Regions from separate parts of the Homo sapiens genome. Here region 1 is linked to region 2. Evidence: fine-mapped expression QTL. Tissue or cell type: whole blood. Region 2 holds a variant in brackets; the other region holds the start of a gene. All regions are shown on one strand. Distances are between the middles of the regions.

Region 1 (8,000 bases), 170 kb after region 2:
GCTTTCAGGCATTGGTCTCCTTCTAATGAGGGGAATCGACCACACAGCTCCAGCATGACCATGCTCACCTATCCCAGCAAATAGGTGTTTATCCCCAGTGAAACCCAGCACAGAACACCCTTAGGAGTAAAATTAGATTTTGGTGCATGAATGTTATTGACAAAAAAGACTCCCTGCTCAATGCCACTCGGGGACATGAGTCTGAATGTCCCTGCCATGGCCCAGGGGAATGATGTCTGTATCACCAAACCAGTGCTGGCACCTGGACCTTGTCACCACTGACAGGGCTGAGAGGAGGTCAGCTGCCGGCTGCTGTACCCGGAACAGGTTTCTAGGGATCAGGCAGAGGCAAGAGGCTGGGGAAGCAGCTTGCCTTGCCAGCTCACCAGGCTGCTCTGGAGAGAAATAGAGGGCTTCTATCTCTATTACTGTCAGAGTCTGGCACTTCTCCCCGGCTCTGAAATTCACAGCAATGGATGGAGGAGGGAGGAGGGAGAAGGAAGGAGGTGCAAGCCAGACAATCAAAACAGCCACAATATTTTGGAAGTGGAATATTCCAGCTAGAGAAAATTCTCTAAAGCATTGAGCAGTAGGGCTGGAAGAGGCCCTAGCTAATCCAGCACTCTGGTTTTGTAGAGGAAATAGTTGAGAGGCAGAAAGACAAAGCAACTTCTCTGAGGTTACAAGGTCAGTAAGGGGCAGAACTGGGACAAGGCTCTGGGTCTTCGGTGCTTTCACCACTTAAAAGAAAGCTTTTGCTTTCTTCCTTTATAAAACCAGAGATTGGCAGGGGGCTTCCTTTTGTGGGAACCCCAGTGGAGACAGAGGATGTTTACCTGCAGGGAAGAGGGGCCAGGGCCCGGCTGTGCCTGGACCCAGAGTGGTGGGGAAGGGGGGTATGCTCATACCTTGCAGGTTGACGCCCCGGGGCACCACGCCCTGAAGCTCCACTGTGGGCAGGTCATCTTCCGCTGCATTAGAGTTATTGGGTGGAACTGCTCTTCTGCCTCCAAAGGCGGTCCTGGAAGTTTCTGACATTTTTGACTTTACAAGGTCCTTCAGAAAAAAAAAAAAAAGAAGACAACAGAAAAGGCATGTAAAGTGAGTAACATTTGAGACAAGGATTCCAAAATAGAGAAACAGATATATCTGTGTGTGATAGCACTTGAGCAACACATTTTGCCGTTTGCATAAATAAAAACTGAGAAGTGGCAGCAAGGATTAGTCTAATGATGGAATACAGTTCCCCAAGGATCTTGGGGAGATTTTTGTATGTGTCAAAACATATGGAAAGCAGAAGAAAAGGGGCTTATTCAAAGAAATTTAAAAATTAAAAGATTTTTGGAGACCCAGATTCCCCCACCCTCCATAATCCTACAGCAGCATCTTCGCAAGAAATGTTTCCTGTTATATGCATGTGCTGTATCTATGTTCATTTCATACAGATTTATGAGATTATAAGTCACTTTTAAGAATAAACGCACACAACCATGTCCAGACAAATGTTGTCTTCTAAAGCGTTTACATTTGCAATTTAATTCAACCAATATTTATTGAGGGCCTATGACATGCCAGGCTGTGATCTAGGTACATGGGATACATCAGAGAACAAAACAGAATGTTTGCTCTGATAGATTATAGTCTGATAGGGTTAGGGTGGAGCCCAAGAAGAGCCATAAGTAAATCCACTTAGGGGTGAGGAGGTAGGAACTGCTTTGGAAATTGAGCCACATGGAGGAGGATAAGGAGGTGGAGAGGTTGGGCATGCAATTTTCAATAGGGCTATCAATAGGCTTAAGAAGTCAGGGTTGCCAACATTTCCCATTCCCCAAGCCTGCTTCCCCTTCCCTTGGAGCTTGTGCAGGCACTGAGCCAGTTTAAACAACACACACCTGACGGTCAGTGCCCAGTAAGTACTTGTTGACCAAATGACCAAATGAAGGGGGACTTTGTTTCTGGGCCCAGTGAAGGTTCCCCCTTGATCCCCTGGATTACCCAGTCATGACTCCTGGAGACTTGGCTATTTTCAAAAACCAGGCACACCCCCAAGAGGTGAAGAGTCCCCATTATAGAGGCCACCAGAGTAGAGAGATGGTTCCAGAGACATGTGGAGCACTAACAACATGCTGGAGAAAAGACAACCACGCCTAAGGTGTCTGGTCTGAGAAGGAGACAGGAGTGTTTGGATGCATAAGGTGTGAATGGGTATCCATAAGTATAGATAAATATATTTACAGTCATTGGTGAGCTGACGGGGGAAGGGAGGGAGAAGAGCGAAAAAGGGTTAATGATAGGGAGAAGGCTGCGAGAGCCATCCTCTAGTGAGAAATACCGAAGGTAGGCTGCGGCATTGCCAGGGGTGCAGAACAGTGTGGCGCGCTGTCGGGAGACACAGTGCTAAGGGGGAGAAGGGGGGAGCCCCAGGTGCACGCCTGGCTGGGTGAGTGCGGCGGGCAGGAGCCCTCGCTTCTGGGCGGGTCTAAGGAGGAGAAGTGGCTCGAGTTCAGCTCCAAATTGGGACGGAGGCAGGCGATGCGCAGGAGTGGGGAGGCGCGCAGGAGTGGGGAGCCAAGCCGGCGGGGTTCCAGTCTAGCAGGCTGTTCTCACTTGGCCCCACTCCCTCCACCTTTTGTGTTCCAGCTCCATAATCTGCTCCCTGAGGAAAGGGGGCTCGTCCCTTGGGGAAGCACCTCCAACTCCCCCATCCCCATTTGGTGGCATTCTAAGCAAGCAACGGCTTCGGGAGAGCTGCCTCGAGAGCCTGAGAGAAGTCCCGCTTAGAAGCTGGGCTGGGCAGGTGCGGAGTTGGGGGCGGGAAGCCAGGATTGGGCAAGTGGAGCTGCCTGTGACCGGCGCCACAGGGCCCAGAGCAAGCCGCTTGCTGGTTCAACCAGGAAACCGAGGTGCAGAAGGTGGACGCAGCGGGCCCTGGCTCATAGGGTGCAGGGTCGGTGGCTTACCTGCAGGCGCTCCCCTCCAGAGGTGCCCTCGCGTGGGCTTGCTCTGTGCGCCTCGGGGACTTCCTCAAACGGACTCGGGAAAGACAAGACAGTTGGCTCTTAAATAACTTCCTAAGAGGAGCCCTCACCCTCCTCCCCTGTCCCACAGGGTTTTCTCCTCCCCCTTCTCCACAGCTGGAGCCAGTAGGGGAGCTCAGAGGATTTTCTATTTACTTCATCTGGCCTGTTATCCCGGCAGGTGCGCCCTTCTCTCCCACTTGCCCCTCTGACTCCCAATTTCCCATTCCCACTTCTCCTCCCCATCCCCATCCCTAGATCTGCCCTCCCCACCGCAACCAGTTGCTGGGAGTACCAGGCAAGGGGCCCTGCAGTGCCAGGAAGTCCCCACCCGTCCCCTTTGGTCAGAGGGTCTGGGAGGGTTTCCTTTACAAAGGAATGCTTTTGCCTGGCAGGTCAGCTGCTACTGTGGCTTGGCAGGAGGGGGGTCTGCCCTCCCACAGACAGGTCACACAGACAGTTGTGACCATGCATGCAGTGAGAGCAACGTGTCCCTCCTGTGCAAATAAGGCATGGTCTGCATTCCTGAATCATCCCAGAGCCACAGCCACCGCCTAACCACAAGACTTCCTGCAGGAATGGGATGCCTAGCCCCAAGGAAGATGAGTAAACATCTTTAATAATGCCATGCAGATTAGAAAATAACACTTGGTTTTCTCTGAAAATCATTTTAGTGCATGTTCAAAAATTAGAAAATTTTCCCCCTAAAATTTTAATTTTTTTCTTTTACTCTTTCTTTCTTTCTTTCTTTCATCTTTCTATCTTTCAGATGAAGTCTTGCTCTGTTGCAAAGGCTGGAGTGCAACCTCCACCTCCCGGGTTCAAGTGATTCTTCTGCCTCAGCCTCCCAAGTAGCTGGAACTACAGGTGCATGCCACCATGCCCGCCTAATTTTTGTATTTTTAGTAGAGATGGGGCTTTACCATGTTGGCCAGGCTGGTCTCGAACTTCTGACCTCAGGTGATCCACCCTCCTTGGCTTCCCAAAGTGTTGGGATTACAGGCGTGAGCCACCGCACCCAGTCAAACATGGCTATTTCTAACCTTCTTTACTGTCTTCAAATTTCTGACCCTGCCACTCAATCTCCCAATGTTATAAAGAAGAAAAAAAAAGATGCCATTGGTTAGAAATTCTCTCAATTTTCTGCTACCAATCTATGAACCTGCCTGCAACCTTATCTATCTTTTCCTCTTTCTTCTTGTTACTGAAGTTGGAAAGGTCCCTCCTCCCTCTGCATCTCCAAACCAGGCTTCTGCGTTGCCTTGTTCTCCGGGGCTTTGCTGTGACTCTTACGTACTCTTCCTCTTGCAGCTTCAAGCTCCTGCTTGCTAATAGTGGGTCTTCTCAGCATTCATGCAATTTCAGGTCTCTTCAGTATTTTTTTAAAAACCTCCCCCAACCTATGTCCCCACTCCTGCTGTTACTCCTCCTCTCCTCCCCTTCATCACTAAGTATCTGCCATCTGGCTTCCGCCTCATCATTCTACTGAAAGTGGAGGTCACGGTCTCCAAGGCCTGTGCTCAGGCCAAAAGACAGGATTCAGTTCTTATTTACCTGACCTTTTGGAAGCATTGAACTCTGTCTTTGAAGGTATTTTTCCTAGGCCTCCTTGACATTGAACACTCTGTGGTTTCCTCCAGTGCAGCGCAATATTCCTTGATTGTCTGAGGAACTCCCATAGTTTTCAAATTCCATCTATATCCTGACACCTCCCAAATCTGGGTCTTTAGCCAAGATCTTTTCCAGAATTGCAGATTCCCGTATCTAAGTGCCTACTGGCTATCCTCATTTGTCACATCCCAGTGACAACACACGCTCATCATGTCTAACATGAGATGTATCACTTTCCTGGAAAACCTGGTGCATCTCAGGAGTTCCCTACCTCAATGAATACCATCACTTTGCACGCAGGTGGTACACCAGACACATGGGCATCATTCTTGAGGCTTCCTTGTTTCTCTCCCTCAATCATCAAATCCGATCCTTGAGCAAATATTTTCTATCCTACCTCTTAAACAGCCCTTGAATCTACCCGTGTATGTACCCCTTTCCAGTCCATTCTCTACAGTGCAGTCAGAATGAGCATTTCAGGGCTAAAATCCGAAATCAAATTATTTGCACAAAGCCCTTATATGGCTACTTCTCTTTGCTTTTTGGATAAATTGCAAGCTGAAACTGACAAGGCCTATACAAGCTGGACCCTGCCTCTAGCACTGCTCTTTCCCTCAGCATCCATACAATTTGAGGTCTCCAGTATTTTTAAAAAACCTTCCCCCAACACCAATCTACCCTCCCTGCCTTCCACTGTTGTTTCTCCTCTCCTCCTCTTCATCACTAAGCTTCTGCCATTTGGCTTCCATCTTTCTTCCCTATCATCTTCCTCTGCCATCTTTCTTCCCTGCCCAGTCTCCCTCCACTGACTCCCCAGTTGTCTTGCAAGGAGTTTGCCTTGTTGTAGTGCTCCTCACACTGCATGATCATTTTCTGTTTCCTTGGCTGTACCTGCACTAGAGTACAAAAAGGTAGGGACTCCAGCCAGAGTTCCCTGGAGAGAGGCTGCTGACCACTTAACTATCCAAAGGCCGTCTTTGCCACATCCCTTGCTGAGTGCTAGAGAAAGACCCTAAAGATGTCTAGCACTGCTTCCCCTCAGCATTCATACAATTTCAGGTCTCCTCAGTATTTTTAAACCCTCCCCCAATCCTTAACGATCATATTCTGGTAGTTCTCCTGGCAAACATCAAATCTGAGTGTCTAGAATTCCAAGATACCCTCATCCATGTGGGGTTGGAGGATGAGCAGCCACCCTTGCACCCTTCAGATGAGGTTACGCAGATGCCAGGTACCCCTGGGACTTGGGGTTGAGTTGTGCATTCAGAACAGGATTGTCACCCTCACAACCACCTCCACGGTGTCACTTTTGGCCTTAGACTAATTATTGGCTTTGTGAACATACACACACAGTGGTTGGCTTTCTGACTCCCCCAAACCACTAACCTCAAGAGCATCATAAATGCAATGGCTTTCCTTGTGCTAAACAAAGTCGATAAAAATGTGTCTAAGCCACCAAGCCCTAGAATGCGGTTGAAGCCCATTCATTTTACAGGGTATTCCTCATGGTTATATGGCTGAGACATCAGAACAAAGGTTTCTGGTCACACAGTGAATCTTGAACTGTGCTAGGGATGCAACTTCCACAGGTGCATAGGCTCTGAGGTCCTTAAGGATGGGATGGTGTCTTTTATTTCTGAATGCCCCCTGCCTGGCATGGAAGTGGAGCCATGTAAATATTTAAGGCATGTAACAGACGGGGTTCATCCAGGAAAACAAAAACCACTTTAGGTCTTTCTAAAAGAAGGAATTTAAGGCAGGGGATTGGTTACACAGGTGAGAGAAGAGACAAGAAACCAAACACGAGAAGGTGAATCAACTCCACAATTAGCAACAGCAGAGAGGAGTTGGTGTCGTTGTAGCGGGAGGACTGAGGGTAGGTCAGGCACTGGAACCGTGTGGTCCTGTCTGGTGGGAGCTTTAGATCCCATAATTCCAAGAAACACTGTCTGAGGTCAAGAGGGAGGGAAGAATGATCCTAGCTTGTCCCTTTCTTCCCGCTCCCTCTCCCTCCCTTGTCTGCCGTTTTGCTGAACTCCACTAGAATCAGTTGACAAAGGACTCTGGAAAATACCGCCTGCAAAGTTAGCCCCACCACTCCTGTGCTGGGGCCCCAAGGCTACCCCCAGGTTCTGTGATTCACTAGGAGGACTCACCAGACTCGGCCACCCACGTAGCTATGATCAGATACAAATGTACATATATCATATATACTACACGATAAATCATGACGAAAAGATACAAATCCAAATCAGCAGAGAAAAGGCACTTGGGCAAAGTCTGGAGGACCAGGCAGAAGTTCCCAAAGGTCCTGTCCTAATCAAGGCACATGGGCTGTGCCTACCAACCCTGGCAATGAGTTGTGACAACACTGATATAATGTCATCTGCCAGGGATGCTCACCAGAGGCTCAGTGCTCAGGGTGTTTATGGGGGGCTGGTCACATAGGTACCCTCTACCTAGCTCATAGCCATTTTCCAGACTCCCTGAAGGAAGCAGGTGTTAAGCATGAGCCACAATTTTTGTACAGTTTAGGCCCAGCCAGCCCCACTTGTCAGTTAGGGAACAGTGGGAAGACTCCTGAAGTCCAAGTTCCCAGATGCCAGACAAGGGCCAAGCTTGCAAGTAGGGCTTTCTAAGCCAGTTTCAGGTTTGCTATGTTAACTCTTTACTGCATCCATACAGGGAAAGGGTGAGGAAAGGCTCTCTGGGCAAACAGTTCCAGGACTGCCACAACACACTGTGCTCTTTCATCATGGCATGGCCAGTCCCTCACATGAGATGTCAATAGGCCTGGAGCACGAGGAGACTCCAATGAGAACGTCACAAGGGTAATCCAGTTCTGCCCCTACTTTCTTGGCCTTACCAGCTCAGCATGAGACCTCCAAGGAGACGTGAACTCCCTCTGGCTGCACGGGCCTGGGCATACCTTCTCACTCTTCTGAAGCTGAAGGGCTCACCCCATTGCCTCCCCAAGAAGCAGGGTAAAAATTCCTAAACACATCACTCTGGGATCCTGGCGTCTCTCAGAAATATGTAGTAAACTTTGGGAGTTGTGAGTAAACAGAAAATACGTGGGAGGAGGGATTCCGGATCCCCTTACCTTGATCCTTTAATTCTGAGTTTTCATTTCTATGGTATTGACACTTTTCTCTGCAGTCTCTCCAGACAAACCATCTTTCTCCTACTTGGCAATACCCAAGGAGCAGACCATATTTGTTCAGGCAATGAATTTTCTGGCAAACTCTATTTGATTTACATGCAAAACTTCACATCTCAAACAAACAAACAAAAAACCCAGTCATGTCTGGACGCTGCTGGTTTTTTCCAGCTGAACAAGACCTGGATTTTGTTGGTTATAGATGTAATTCC
Region 2 (8,215 bases):
AGTAGTGTGTTATATTGAAAATTAAAAGCATTCACTTCTGCACAGATGCAAATATAATCAGTTTAACTTTATTTTAAGCTTCTATTACATTGTAATTAATAATAATATACTAAGTTAAGCCAGTTTAACTGTCTAGCAAAATGCATTTCATTTTAAAATTGGATATTGGGAGACTTGGCAAATGCTGTGAGATTACTTAGTAAAGTTAAGTATGATGTATATATAGAGGGGACCAGCTCACCCTCATAGGTTAGTGCTGAAGGCTCAGGAACAGTCTCAAAGGCTTAGAAATGTGGTTATATAGACCAGAGCATTCCATTCTGATTTTGCCCCCAGTATACTTATCACTGTTCATTTTTTGCTAAGAATCACAGTCTACTGACCTAAATCACACCCTAGACATATCAGAGGGAAATTCTGACCATAAATCAGCCTTGCAAATACATAGCAGGCAGCCTTCTCTGTAGTAGCCTTGGAACATAATACAAATGATGTCAGCATCCTCTGTGGTTGGGTCAGAACTAGCACTGGCTATTTGCAAGGCTGAGTCCATATTACCCTTCAGCACCTGAGTGCCAAGCTGAGGTCTCAACATGGGTGATGTGAAGGACAAGAGAGAATCAGTGGCTGCAGTCCTTCTATATATCTGGTCACTAGATCCGCCAGCTTCTTCAACTTGTTGGGCTTATTATATCTCTGAAAGGGGACCTGAACCTGCATCATTCTGCAAAGGAGATGATTCCTGAGAGATGGGTGAAATATAATCACTAACTAAAGAGATAAATTCTTCACTTTACTTCCTAGTATTGCATCCCAGAAAGGGTTAAAGTAAGGGATATTGGCTCCTGCTGATCAGGCCACAGTGTGACACATTCTATAAAATGCATCACAAAACTACATTATTCAATAGACTTGAGTGTTGCACCTGCTTTCTTATCTCCTTGTAGGTGGTTAAGTTTCCCACAAATGCAATTTGTTAATATGGGGCCACCTCTTCTAACAAGGTAAATCTAAAATTTGGCAGGCATTTGCTTGGCTGCAGGTGCAAAATGAAAGATCTTTTTCTGGCTTTGCCAAAAATAAAAATTATGTTGTGCTCTAGTCCTGGGAAAAATATTCTCACATGGAGGGTAGAACCTGACCCCGAGAAAGGGGACTGGAATTCTAGAGCCCAAATCATGTGCTATTATTCCCAAAAGGCTGAGTGGGGAATCTGAAGTCTTGTTTTAAATGAGGCCAGGTATTGAGCAAATCTCCCTGGTAAGAGAGCCCACTGATATTTGGAGATGTAGCCATTTGTGATGATAAATGATGACTGTTACTCTTATGAGCTATGAGAGCTTAATTAAAGCTAATGCTTAGCACTCTTTGGAAGGTGGAGAGATTAAAAACTAACTTCCTTGCCGAATAGCCTGGGTTTGGAAAAGCATGTTTTTGAAATATGTGGGATCTCCACTCTGGAGCCCTCTGCAGTCCTGTCTGGGTCTTCACACCTAAGTCAAAGCAAGAGCTATTTTTGCGTTAGAATTTCCTTAGCCAAGACTACAAGAGGCCAAATGCCAGGGTTCATCTCAGCTTCCTGTGCATTCACATGGAAGGTCGTCTTTGAATCTGCACGTCCAGCTCGCCATACACATGTCTCAGGGAGTCACTGCTCATGCTGGCTATCAGCTTCCGATGCCCAGAGACCCAGGGCCGGCACACTTCTTCCCACTGCACGGTGGAGTTGGGCCGGATTTCACTGAAAGGATGGAAAAGAGAGGAGAGGTTGGAAGATCCAGCTTTCCACTTTGATCAGGAAGCAATGAAAACTCTTGCCTAAGTCACTTGCTTTCTTTCTCTCAGTTGGTGCTTAGGACACTGAAGACTCTCACTGGCTGATTCAGCAAGTTATGCCCCAAATGAGGCCCCCACATAAAGCTCTGCAGAACCTGTCACTGACAGTCTTATTGGGTCATGGTTCCTTCCACTGGGATGCATCCGCCAGCCTCCCAGTGGCCATCAGGAGCTGGGCTGATTCCCATCCAACCATTAATCAACTGAACTCTAGCTTGTCTCCAAGCCCTCCATAGTAGCCTTATCTATGTGACTGATCTTCTGAGCCTCAGCTCAGTTTTTGCCACTAGTTTCCTCCTGGAATTACAGTCCTATATGAATCCCCCAGCTGCCTTTGCTGAGGCCCTGACACTCGAATTAGCTTTTGCCAACTCCCTTGGGATAGACCTTGTTCCCAGGCTCAGCATCTGGAATATAGCCCTGCCTGCTGCCATTTGACTTTGAGAATCTTCATGTTCTGTAATTCAAATTCCTATTTCAACCACCAAATTGGGCCCCTCCACCTATGCAACTTTCTGCTACCATTTGTTGCCAATGCCCTAATGTATGCGGCTAATGACATAGCCTTTCATGGTTCTAGTGTTCTCCTCTTCCTCCCAGCCTTTGCCCTGAAGTCTTCCTGAGTGTCACGAACAAGCCCACATCAGTGCAGACTGAGACTAATCAGGGTTGGTGAGATTTAGTGTTCTCTGGGGTGCTTCACATATAGCCTCCCCTATAAACCTTGGGAGATTATATTCAGGTTTTATATGTATGACAGTTCTTTGAGGCAGATACTATTCAGCAGATTTTATGATCAAGAAAAATGGAAGGTAACCAGTGAAGTCCCTTTTTCAAGATCACATAATTGGTAAATGGGCAGAGATGAAATTTGAACCCGGGTTTTTCTGAGTCCCATATTCATACTCTTTCTGCTCCTCTTCACTGCACTTCATAAAAGTGTACACCATATGTTCTATAAGAAAAGGCTTTTTCTAAGATATTTGCACACACATATTTATAGCAGCACAGTGTGCAATTGCAAAAATATGGAACCAGCCCAAATGCCCATCAATGAGTGAATAAAGAAATTGTGGTATGCATATACCATGGAATACTACTCAGCCATAAAAAGGAATGAAACAATGGAATTCACAGTGACCTAGATGAAACTGGAGACCAGTATTCTAAGTGAAGTAACTCAGGAATGGAAAACCAAACATCCTATGTTCTCACTCATAAGCTGGAGCTAAGCTATGAGGATGCAAAGGCATAACAATGAACAATGACGCAATGGTCTTTGGGGACTCAGGGGAAAGGTGGGAGGGATAAAAGACTACAAAATGGTTACAGTATATACTGCTTAGGTGATGGGTGACCAAATGTCTCAGAAACCACCACCAAAGAACTTATTCATGTAACCAAACACCAACTGTTCCCCAAAAACCTATAGAAATAAAAAAAGAAAAGAAGAAAAGGCTTTTTCTGACCATTGTGCTTACTTTTTCATAGGTTTTATTTCTCAAGCAGGAAAGATACTTTTTGACTTAGTAATAAGAGTGTCCTGGAAGTGTTCATGGAGGATTCATTGAACTCTTTGCAAGATAATTTAGGAAAGTTTCTCCTGCCTGTATGCAGAGAGAAAATTCTCAGTGCTCAATTCAATACCAATATAAGTTTGGGATATTTATTTCTCAACAGCTGTGCTATTGTTACCTGTATCCATTCATTCTCTCTCCTCTGGTTCCCCCAAGTGATCAATCAGAAGCACTTTGTGAAACAGTGGCCCTGGTTAAGGACCCGACCTGAGACCATGTACTGTAGA[T/C]AACCACCTCAAATAGAAGCTAAGTATTTAGCCCCCTCTTATCATTTTCTCTTACTCATAAAACCATCCGGCATAATGATGTGTACATACGAAAAAACTCATACATGAAAATACTCATACATGAAGATACGTATGCATGCTATTTTACATACAGATAAATTCATAACAGAGAAAAAAGTATTTTGATAAGTGGAGCAATGTTGGAGTAATCCTATTTTCTGGGGATGGATGTTGTGATAAACGATTCTCAGTAACGTGCTGAGCCATCAGGAGATACCGGCCATTTATCATCTTGAATGCACGCAGGCAAATAAGATTATTATTACAATAAACTGCAACTGCCCATGGTTTGTCCTCTGTGCTTCTAGACCTTAGCTTCTGTCCTATTTGAGAAACTTAAAGTTTAAGCCCAAATCACAAAGTGGGGGAGTTTTTCTCTTGAAATAACATATTGAACTGGATCATTTTCTAAAGAGCAAAATAAATCTGGAAGATAAATTATTTGACGCTCTGGAAGCATCAAGTGCAGAAAGTTAAGAGTCTGTGGAGGTGGAACCTCTGCACATCTGAGACAGGCCGGAGGCAGTGGGGGAAGAGCAGGAAGATAAACCATTTCAGAGTAGAGTTGGCTCACTGCGAGTGAGGGGTGAGACACAGCACCGCCTTCTTTGTTCCTGGCTCCAATTCCCTGTTTACCAGCTCCTCACCTTCCAGGCCCTCTGCTTTGGGTTCAATAACCCCTGCCTTCTAGACACCACATCTGGCAGGGTGTGGGTGAATGAGTGGGGGTGGTGATTCCCCAACTATTTAAGAGCTGTATTCTAGAAAGAAATACGGTCTTGCAAAGGATTTTGGTTTTGTGGAATTGCACTTTCTAGGCGTCCAAGTTGTTACATGGATCTGGCGCTCCTAGATCAGATCTTGGCAACATAGGGCACAGTGGAGTGCTTCTAATTATCTGACCATATGGAAGTGGGCACGGACTGGCTCAGGTCTTGGTTGTGAAGGTGTGTGCTGGAGTGAGGAGTAAACAGAGAAAGTGGCACTTGCTCCAAGTTGTAAGCCCATCTTAGATAACAAATGTTTTCTATGTCATGATTTTTAGCCCAAGTTTTGACTGTCTCTGAGAAATAAAGCTTCTCTTGTCTGGGAGATATTCCACCCTGAAGCTGGGTTTCTGTAACTATTCAGCCATAAAAAGAATAAAATCCTGCCATTTGTAACAACATGAATTAGACTTGGAGGAAGGGCATCATGGTAAGTGAAATAAACCAGACATGGAAAGACAAATACTACATGATTTCACTCACATGTAGACACTAAAAAAAAAAAAATTATTATACCATAGAAGCAAAGAGCAGAACAGTGGTTACCAGAGACTGAGGAGGAGAACATGAAGGGGAAGATGGGAAGAGGTTGGCCAATGAGAACAAAGTGACAATTAAATAGGAGGAATAAGTTCTGGTGTTCTATTGCATGATAAGGTAACTATGATTAACAGTAGGTATTGTATATTACAAAAGAGCTAGAAGACAGGCTTTTGAATGTTCTCACCACAAAGAAATGATAAATGCATGGGGTGATGGATACACTAAATACTCCGATTTGATCATTATACAACATATATATGTATCGAAACATCAAATTGCCCCACATAAATATGTAGAATTACAATGTGTCAGTAAAAAAAACTTAAAAAGAGAGATTGAGGACTGTTACGGACTAAATGTTTGTGGTCCTCACACATTCATTTGTTGAAACCCAAACTCCAGTGTGATACCATTTAGCGATGGAGCTTTGGGGAGGTAACTAAATTAGAATAGGTCATGAGGGTGGGGCTCATGATGGGATTAGTGCCCTTCGAAGAAGAGGTGCCAGAGAACTTGCCCTCCCTCTCTCTGCCCCATGTGAGGACACAGTGAAAAGACAGCCATCTGCAAGCTGGGAAGGGAGCCCTCATCAGGAACCGAATTGGTCGGCACCTTGTCCTCAGACTTCCCAGACTCCAGAAGTGTGAGATATAAATGTTTGTTGTATAAGCCACCCAGTCTATGGCATTTCTGTTACAGCAGCTCAAACTGACTAAGAGCAGCTAGCTCTCTGTCTATCTACTTGTCTGCCTAGACTTACGTGTTGCAGTAACTACTAACAGTACCTTAAGCCAGTGTGTGGGCAGGACATCTGTGTCCAAGAAGGGACTGGCCTTATCCATCCTTTCTCCCGATTCACTCCACTTTGCTCCACTCCAATGTCAGACATTAACAATAAACAAACCATCTGGAGATTTAACCTATTTTGAGCCTGAGGCCTCCCAAATAGTGGGTCATTGCACTGTGTAATAATTCACTGTGTAATAATTCATCTTTTGTCTAAGACACACAGTGTCTTTTTTCATGTGTTGGCCTTGACCAAGGTGGAATTCTAGGGGGATAGCCAAGGTGTAAAGATAGAGAAGTTTCCGGTACACTCAGATAAAGCTTGTGGGTTTACTGTCTGGGAAGGAAAAAGTTGGATACAGCAGGGGGCTGTATGGAAGAGGAAACGTGTTTCACTTTGCCTGAACGATTCTTGCATCTGATTTGAGTGGGAAGGTGCGAGAATGGGTGAGTGAGACTGTCGTTTCTGACGAAAGCAGGGGTATGGCTGCTGACCTCTCTATGTAGCTGGGGTTGATTACTAATTTACTTATTTTTTTTTCCTGTAACTTTCCTGTTAGCACAGGAAGGTTGCTATGTTTTGTGCTTGCGTTGTTTCAAAAGCACTAAGATTATTTTCTCTGTTGTTTATTGCATCTGCAATAAGGCATCTCTTAAATGATGAGATGCAGAAGCTACGAGCATTGTAATTTGAAAGAAATGCGGAGAGCCCTTTATGGGCAATAAAGTTGCCCCAGAGGGTATAAGTGAGGCCTTGCATTTATCCCACAGATTCCAGAGTGGGGTCGCTTCCATAAAGGGTGTCGGGAAAATTCTTGACATATCTGGTCATGAGGCAGTTTCCAAAGTCCTCTACCTCCCTTTCTATGCCTTAGAAGGTCACTCCACAGGAAATGTGCTAGATTGATTGATGCTGACAAGGACTTATTTGTGGTAGAAATGAAAGTAATAAACCTCAAAGATTGGGATCCATTCTGGGTGTCACACTTTAAGAGGAGTAGTGACAAATTGGAATGTGTGGGAGAGAGAGAGAGAGAGCTGAAACCATGTTAGAGGAGAGGGAAATAAAGTCAGGACAGATATTTGTCCCCAGGTAGAAAAGATTCAAGGAAGATGAGACAGCTGTTTGCAAACATTTGCAAACCATCAGATGGAAAAGAGATGGGCCTTACTTTCTGTCAGTCCAGATGGCAGAATTAGGATCATTGGCAGGATCAAATGGTAGAAAAACCTGTTTCCTTACTGTTAGAGCTACCTGACCATGGAATGGGTTATCTTGTTGGGTCACACTCTTTGTTAGTAGAAGTCACAGAAACTGAGACCTGTCAAGCACAATTTGAAGTGGCCTGTGTGTGGAAGAGGCTGAGTTTCATTCATATCATTACAGAACCTGGGGTTGTCTTTGGTCCCCTGAATGGGGAACCATCTAGAGCTCTTTAGGCTCAACTAAAAAAAAACCTGAATCCAACAGTTGTAGACACTGATTGGGATGGTAAAATCTGTGAGGTGAGGCTGGAGACAAAGCACCCATGAAAAGGGGGTATCTCTCAGCATAATATCTGACACGTGGTAGGAGCTCAATAAAGATGAGAAGAGACCATACGTGAGTAGGTAGTACAGCAAAGTGGTTCAAACTTGGGTTCTGGAATTCACCAGCCTGAGTCTGAATCTTGGCTCTGTTTTCATAAACTGTGTAACTGAACCTGTGTAACCAGTCAACCTCTCAAAGCCTCAAATTCCTCAGCTACAGAAGGGAGATAATAGCAGTATCTACATCGTAGGGTGTCTTTAAGGATTAAATGATGAAAGTGCTGGTCAAACCAACCCTAGTTTTACTCCACGCCCTACAGAAATGGTCGGCAAGGAGGAGGCAGCTTCCAAGACATTTTCACTGGGGAGCAGATCTATGTTTGGAAAAGACACACACAGAGAAAGCTTCCCACAGCCCTGCACTGCCTGCCCGGTCTCCCCAACCCAAGGTTTACCGGAACATCTTCTTCATTGGTCTTGTTACTCCAGGACCATCCAGGTGTACCCAGACATTTCGCAGGGTTTCTTTTAAAGGATTGGTAAACTCAACTGTCACAGTCATGTCAGAACCAACTACCTGAGTGCCACGGACCTAAGAGAGAGAATGCAGGTCATTAGCACCAAATAAAACCTCGTTCTGCTCTCTTGTTGTCTTAACCATCATCACTTTTACTAGAGTTTTATGATACAGTTATTTTTTTGGCAATGGAACCAGTGTGATGAGGATAGCTGATTGCTTTGACTGGAGGATACCTATTGAGAAAGAGATGGAAATTTACTAATTAGAATCGCACTCTTTTCCTCATTATAAAACCAGCCTAATTAGAGCTCAGGTCAATAGCGGTGGCCACTGACTGCTCTTTGACAGCAGGAGGGGGAAGTTCATTTG

What was found. PIP is the estimated chance that this variant, and not a neighbour inherited with it, causes the effect.
Region 1: F13A1 starts here. The variant in region 2 is fine-mapped to the expression of F13A1 in whole blood (INTERVAL, PIP 0.99).

What each region holds. Positions count from the first base shown.
Region 1 is chr6:6,317,627-6,325,626 of GRCh38, forward strand. It overlaps F13A1 (coagulation factor XIII A chain), which reads right to left and starts at 3,036. Exons shown (of 15, transcript NM_000129.4): 1 at 2,961-3,036; 2 at 909-1,056. The coding sequence starts at 1,038. The region is part of intron 1 of LOC124901253 (a long non-coding RNA gene); the gene reads left to right.
Region 2 is chr6:6,144,032-6,152,246 of GRCh38, forward strand. F13A1 (coagulation factor XIII A chain) reads right to left here. Exons shown (of 15, transcript NM_000129.4): 14 at 7,782-7,918; 15 at 53-1,741. The coding sequence ends at 1,588. Among named protein-coding and RNA genes, the nearest start is that of MIR5683, 21 kb to the right of the region's middle. The variant T/C (reference allele first, on the strand shown) is at 3,641.